2 linked regions of the Homo sapiens genome follow. The protein of the gene in region 1 purifies or fractionates together with the protein of each later gene. This does not show direct contact. Each region holds a gene or a part of one and is shown on either strand. Other genes may lie near its edges.

What was found. The genes of interacting proteins can lie anywhere in the genome.
Region 2: the proteins of ARHGAP12 (region 1) and TJP2 purify together in Homo sapiens (co-immunoprecipitation; 3 studies listed by BioGRID and IntAct, with this or other methods). This does not show direct contact.

The regions. Positions count from the first base shown.
Region 1 is NC_000010.11:31,927,059-31,930,808, forward strand, and holds the start of ARHGAP12 (rho GTPase-activating protein 12), read right to left. Parts: upstream 1,774-3,750; 5' UTR 1,625-1,773; exon of another isoform or gene 1,604-1,624; intron 986-1,603; exon of another isoform or gene 1-985. UniProt on the Homo sapiens protein: GTPase activator for the Rho-type GTPases by converting them to an inactive GDP-bound state.
Region 2 is NC_000009.12:69,247,190-69,250,939, reverse strand, and holds part of TJP2 (tight junction protein 2), read right to left. Parts: intron 2,929-3,750; coding exon 2,716-2,928; intron 1,566-2,715; coding exon 1,455-1,565; intron 1-1,454. UniProt on the Homo sapiens protein: Plays a role in tight junctions and adherens junctions. Acts as a positive regulator of RANKL-induced osteoclast differentiation, potentially via mediating downstream transcriptional activity.

The DNA.
Region 1 (3,750 bases):
GTTTCTTTTTCCCCCACAGAGAAACACTTTTAGAACAGTGGAGCCGCATGCAACCAGGGGTCGCACATATGTGCGCAGACGGTCTGGCTCGTCAGGTGGCATGGGTGGGGGTCACGCTTTCACTGCCTGCTTTGGGCTCTCAAAACCCAGCTCTGAAACGTTTCCAAGGCAAAATAAAAATAGCCAAAATGCCTATTCAGACCAGAGGAGGTAGAGGAAGATGACCGATTCTGTAAAACACCCTCCTACAGATAAAGAAAAGGCGATATGGGCAAGTACACACACATCTAGGCCATCGTTCCCGACTTTTAAGTATGAAAGAGGCGTGGCTAGGGGCTAGATACTTATTTTTAACACTTCCATTGAAACACCCGGAGTCTCCCAAGGTCTAACCTCTAGAAGTCGGGTGGCAGAACCTGAATCAGAACCCGAGTGAGCCTTCCTTCCTCCACCACCTCCCTTTAGGAACGCATGCCTAAATAGTCGATAAAATCTACTTCTCAATGTCATGATTAACCCAAAAGCCAGCCACAACCAATCGTGTTATTAGAGTGCTAAAAGCCTCTATCCACAACAAACACTCCACTTGGGATGACATTAAAACTTTCGATAAAGGTGTACTTTCAACGTCGTGCTTTAGCCTTTGAAAATACATTTACAAAACTGCAGCTGCAGTCAAAAGGAAAACATCACACGCCTCGAAAGCTGAAGGGCGTGCCTTTTTCTCTAACGAAGACCGTGTGGCCATTTCTTCTCAAAGGGTCTGCAGTCACTTAAGATAGCAACGCGTAAAGGACAGCCGTTCTGAGAAGACAACCAGCTCCCCTGAGATGGGAGGCGGGCTGCACGCTGGTAAAGAGGATTTTTCAATTCAAGGACTTTGAGGAGATTCCGCCCAGATAAGCTGGAGGGGAGCGAATGCACGTCCATCCAGCAGGGGCAGGGCACCGGGAAAGACCGCAAAGAAGAAAGTGTCCGGTTTAAGGTCAACAGTCCTCGAGGGACGCCCCAGGTGGATTCCCCGGGTGGGCTCCCCGGGTGGGTGGAGGCCTGCAAGCCCCACCGCGATTAGGGAGTGGGCCCAGGGCGCGGGAGGGGCCGGGCCGGCCTTTTGCGCACACACACACACACACACACACACCCGCCTTTTGCAGACACACGCGCGCGCACACACCCGCCTTTTGCACATAGACACGCACACACCCGCCTTGTGCACACACGCGCGCACTCTCCCGCACTCACACACACACCCGCGCACCCTCACACTCTCCTCCCTGGGGGCGGGGCGGGCGGGCGCTGCCCTCACACAGGAAGTCAGGAAACCCAGGGGGCAGAGAAGCCACAACTTCGGGCCATTTAAACCCTCTCGCCCACGTCAGCCAATAGGCTGCGCCGGCCCCCTCCCCCTCGGCGCCTAACCCCCGCGCCCAGAGCCCCTCGCTGCGCGCCCGACCTCCCTTTGCGCGCACCTCCGCGGCGCCGCCGCCGCCGCCGCCGCGCCTCCCGCACACGCCTCCCCCCGACTCCACCGCCCTCGGCGGGCACAGCCCGGCCCCGGCGCGCCTTTGTGCAGCGCCTCGCCAACCTGCCCTCCGTCCGCCAGGACCCGCGCCCTGCACCTCACCGGGAGCCCGGCGGCCTCGCAGCAGGCGGCTCCCTTCTTAGTCCGCCCCGCGGCTGCGGGTCGACGACGCGAGCCCGAAGAGCGTTCACACGGCTACGGCCGCGGCCGGCCCGTCCCCGCAGGCTGGCCTCTGAGGGAGGGTAAGTTACAGGGCACGTCGGAGCGCGCCGGCGCGGGGGCGGGGCTCACGTGACGCGCGGGGGCGGGGCGGGAGGCTCACGTGATGGCCCGGGCGAGCTGGGCGGGCGCGGGTCTCCGGGACGGTCTGGGGTGGCTAGGGGGTGCGGCGCCCGGCGGGGATCCGAATAGGGGGCAGCCAGCGTACGGTGTGGGAACTCGGGCCGGCGCGGGAGCCTGCGGTCAAGGGGGCTCAGCACTTTGTAAACAAGGAGTGGGAAGCGTTAAAAAAACGCTCGTAGGGAAAACCAGGGAAGGGCGGACATAGCGCCAGGGTGGCAGGAATGGAGCCCGGGCAAAGACGGCCCTGCCGTGGGCCCTAGCGCTCCCTTCGTCGGCCCCTGGAGCTGCGGCCGGGCGTGGGTCAGTCGTTCACGGGCCCGGAAATTCCACTGGGACACCCGAAAAAGTGCTGCACGCCGCCTGAGGGAGACGGAAAGGGACCCGGGGCACTGAGTCCATTGCTGGGGTCGCCAGGGTACGTGGCAGGACCCGCTGTGCACACTCGGGACTGAGGAGACCCCTGGGACGCGGAGAGCCGCTCCAGGGCAGAACCAGTCCGTCAGCATTTAGCCTTCCACGGGCCTGAGGGTGCGAGCCCTGCGGGGGCCACAGGGTCATTGTCCAAAGTCATCCCCGTTTGCACTGTGGCAGCACCGAACCCGGAAGTAACAGCTTTGGCAGGTCTTTGATGGTGATCCAGTGGCAGGAGGAGCTCAGCTGGAATGGGAATCAGGAAAGAGACCTGGCTTCTGCCATTTATTGGCACTTCACCCTTCTGAACCTCAGCTTTCAAATGAGAGCTGGCTTCTAGGTCTAGAATACAGTGAGTGTGAGAAAAATAACTGAGAGGCGTTGGGACTTCAGTAACTACTCATTCCTTAACCAGTTGTTGATTGTGCCTGTTGTGCCAGGATGAAATATTTGTTAATAATAGAGACCAGAAAGGAGAGGGGGGAAAAAACAAGCATATGTATGATTCAAGCAATGAAGAGCTACTCTCCGGAGTTGGCTCTTTCCTGTGCTTCACTTCGTACTTGAAGATGCCACAATGCCTGGCTTCCTTATCAACCAGCTGAACTCCGAATTGTGCCTTACAGGATGCGAAGAATCCGGTAGGGCAGTGGCAAGACTTTAACAGCTGTGGTTTACAACCTTCTTATTAAATTAAGTCTAATGCGAGCTAAAGTGTTAAGATAGTCTCCATTTAGAAAGGAAAGAGGCTTACAATGAGAATTTTTGAAAAATAAGCCTGAGACTGTGCTGTCTCTATCGTTGCATTTGCTTTTCACAGTCCTTGGCACCCACTGCCTTTTTGTCTCCCTCGGTTTCTAACCCGTTCTGTTTTCTTGCATTTGTTCAGTATAAGGAGTATTTCCTGTATGCTTTGGCAACTATTTTCCATAGACTCTGCTTGTGTTCTCCTTATAAAACCAGAACAAGAGCAGTGCAAAAAAGAAAACGACCCTGATAGGAATGCGCTGATAACCTTACTTTCCCTACTCTCCAAACCTGAATTGGGCACCCTTGGTTTTAGCAAGAGATAGAACTCAACAGTTTGCATACACTTGCGGATCTGCCTGTAACCCCACTTCCTATTTCACAGCCTAATCTCGGATGATACCACAATGCCCACAGTATGCTGATCACCACCAACAGCAGATGGAGGCGGATAAAAAGAGCTTTCTCGCTAGTGTGTTGTTTTAAAAGAACCTGATGGAGAGCTATGATCATATGTAACACTGCCTCTAGTTAGTTTTTAAATAACACTTGTAGCATATGTCTGGCGCCTGTGCTCAGGATTTCAACAGATCATTTTCAGGATTTTGACATTTAACTGGCTTCTTATGAAGTAGCAGAGAGTTCCAAAATGTAGAACTGAAATATAAGCTCCACACACAGGCAGAGATTTGAGTCTGATTTGTTTGTGTGTATATCCCAAGTGCCTA
Region 2 (3,750 bases), on another chromosome or scaffold:
CCAAAGGTGGTCCACAAATACCATTCTGACAAGGAATGTAATACAGCAGGGCAAACAGCCACTGGCCAGGCTTCCTGAGCCCTACCTCCCTTCCTATACTAGTCTATTAGGAATGTCAGGAAGCCAAAAAGGAATAGGGAAAGTGCTGGGAGGGCTGTGATTGCTGGAGGTAAGATCAGACCTGGAATAATTTTGTTCTAGAGGAGATCAGCATCTTGGAGAAGATCTCAGAACAATTCAGGCTTTGGGACTCGAAGAGTGGGCTTCTGAGGTCACTGCTGCACTGAGGGTACATGAGCCGGCCCAGGTGAGACCCATGTCCAGCTGAGGAATGAGACTGGGGTGGGGAGCGAGGAGAGCACTGCTTCACGCTAACAGCCACTTTTCCTTCACACTTCCAGTCTTGCCCGGCTTGCAAATTTTCGCTGATGTATTTTATGAGGTCACTTATTATTACTTAGTACCTATCACATTTACTACTTCTGATGGCTCACACAATCAATTATGGCTTTCTTCTCATCTAAATTATTGAGTTAGGCTGGGCGCAGTGGCTCACGCCTGTAATCCCAGCACTGTGGGAGGCCGAAGTGGGTGGATCACCTGAGGCCAGGAGTTCGAGACCAGCCTGGCCAACATGTCGAAACCCCATCTCTACTAAAAATACAAAAATTAGCTGAATATAGTGGTGCACACCTCTAAGTCCCAGCTACTCGGGAGGCTGAGGCAGGAGAATCACTTGAACCCAGGAGGTGGAGGTTGCAGTGAGCCGAGATTGCACCACTGCACTCCAGCCTGGGCAACAGAGTGAGACTCTGTCTCAAAAAATAGTAATAATAAATAATAAATTATTGAGTTAAATAGGTTTTATTCTGGTATAAGGAAAAACATAGAGTCACAGCTCTGATTCTGACTAAAGGTAAATAATCTTTTGATATAAGCCCTTGTGTCTTTATATTGATTCTGCTCTGGATAATGATTTATTAAACAAATAAGCAGCTCTCTTAATGAGAGGCATTGTAAGCAGTGGTGATGATTATTCTCTTTAGCACATCACCAGTAAGAATTATCTGGTGCATCTAAATCAGACTGGGCAGAAAACTTTAGCTGGACAGCAAAAGAAAAACACGTTCTGCGATTGGTGATTCTGGGTATACAGTACAGTATTTTTCAATCTTTTTCTTTACAATCTTTTTTTAACAAGAAGAGTAAATTAAATAAACACTAACAGTCCTAAAATCATATGCTCTCCTAATATTGCCTTTCCTTCCTTTTTGCCCTTCCCTAATTTGGGAGTTCACCCAACAGGCCAAAAGATAGGCTCTAATAGAGAACACAGTGAGTCAGAACCGTAATTAAACACCATCTCAGTGTGCATGCTCCTCCCTGGCCGTCCAGGAGGCTTCAGAGGCATCTGCTTCCTCTTCCTTCCCATCCTGGGCTTCCCAGCCACGTACCTTGGGCGGCTCTGGCTTGAATGCTGGGGGCGGGCTATTGTCCCTAAGTTGATCGCTGCTAGCAGCCCTCCTCATCTGAGCTCGTGGCTCTGGGCTGGGTTTCCTTATGCTCTACAAGACATAAAGGTTCATTCACAACAAGAACATCCAAGCAGAGAGAACAGAGCACTCGACTGCTTTGGAGGAGTTCTGCAAACTTGAGTAAGTCCAGAAGTTGAGGTTCTGAGCCGGTGCTTCTTTACTGAACAGGCAGAAACCATCACCAAATGCTTCAGACACATTTTTAAAAACTGGCTGCATCCAATGTAGAGTCTCTTCCTTTAAAGCACAATTTTTTAAGAACCCTCCAAAAGTCTAAAATCTCTTGTGTCACTAATATCCATGTCTATAGGCATTTGGAAGTTAATTTATTCTTTACAAGTTGTCTAGCATAAACTAATTTGTTGCTGTGGTAATGGTGTATTTTTCTCCCCCTTCAGTTTGTTGTTGTTGAACTTTTTTTTTTTTTTTTTTTTGGTAGTTCTATTTCATAAAGAAAAAAATCATTTACTGGAATGAGCTAAAATGCTAGAGAGAAATCCACAGCAATAATTATCCAAATATATGAACAATCCCATCTTCAAAGATCATTATTCCAACATTCTCTGAGGTGCAACTAATAATTGCTAACTTGGCTGTGACTTTACAGTGCCTGTCAATGTGATTTCAAGGATCCCATAAGCTATCTAATCACAGTGGATGCACAGTACATGTGATGTGATCAGATGAAGGTTTGATCATGAACTCAATTAAAAAACTGAAATATAAGAGAGAAGGAAACTGATGGGGAAACACTCAAGAGCTTTGGCAAGATTAGAAAGGTTAAAGGCAGGATGGGGAAGAAAAGCAAGGACATCTAAGAGTACAGAGAGAAACCTAATCAAAGGTTACAAGTACATACAACAATACTGCATGGGAAGGAAGGTTCCGCTGGTAATTTGGACAGACGGCACCTAAAGCCATTCTGTTTATCCATCGCACCTGAGGGCATGGGTGTGCGGAGTGCTGACCCCTCAAGCTCTTCTGAAGTCCACCTGCCTGCCCCACTTTCCCACAGACTGCAACCATGCCAGCGTGGACTCAAAGCGAGAGACTCCCTGGAAGTCATCTGCTCCAACCCTTAGGAATGCCTTCCACAGCACCCTGAACACACAGCTGTCCACGAGAGTGCAAGGAAAACACCAGGCTCTCCTGTTCCTGCCCGTGGCCTGCCTCGCCTCACCTCCTCGTGCTGCACCGGCTCCGAGGAGCGGGTGATGGACGACACCAGCGGCTCCTCGGCTGGCTCATCCAGCTCATTGTCAGTGTAGGCGCCTCCTTCACCGTCCGTGTCTTCAAAGTCACTGATGAGGCGGCTGTCGCAACTCAGATAGTCCGCGCCCATGGCGGTTAAGTAGGACATGCGGTCTTCGGGGTCATCATCCATCCCTTCCATCTAGAGGAATTTGTGTTGGACGGTCAGTGGGGTCTGATGTGGCTCCTGGGAGTGGGGACTCAAGAAAATTCCCAAGGACACAGCCAAGCGACTGAAACCTTGATGTGCTCGCCAGGGAAGGCATCTTTTATTTTTCTCCCTGAGATCACTTGGCTTTGGTACAATGTTGATATTATGGTCGTTTTTGTGCAGGAACTCAAATTAGGGGCCCTGCAGCCTATCTGTGCTACCATCCATCCTCCATACCGCGGCTAAGCCACACTTTCTCAGTCTGTCTTGCTTTTCTTCTGAATCCAGCTCCTCTGCAGCCTGTTCTCCTGGTACCACTCTCCTAGTAATATCAACACATTGCACGCTGCCTTGTGCTACACTCACATCCATGCCTCTACAAGATTCTCAGACCCTCAAAGGCAGAAGCTATGTCCTGTTCAACCTGTCCTCCCCAGGGAAGCTTGCATCCCCCTTCCAAACTGGAAGCACTCCATAGATGCCAGATACTTTGACTACACATCTAGTTCTCAAAGAGCAAAACTTAGTCAATTCTGCAACAAAATAGTCACTGTCAAGTCTCACAAAACTACCTCAGTTCAGCTGGTGAACAGGATACTAACACCAAAAGCTTCTAAAATAAAAGCGGCCACAGGTAATAGAATCTCCCTCTCTCCTCCCTGCAGCACAGCTGTGTGTGAGCTATCTCCCCGAGGGAGAAGCGATCCAATTCTAGAGGCCTAGACAAATTCCCTAACGTTCTCATATCACCCATTCAAACTCCCAGAACGATGGCACATTCTCAACCAACCTTATTTTCTAAGTAATTCTAAC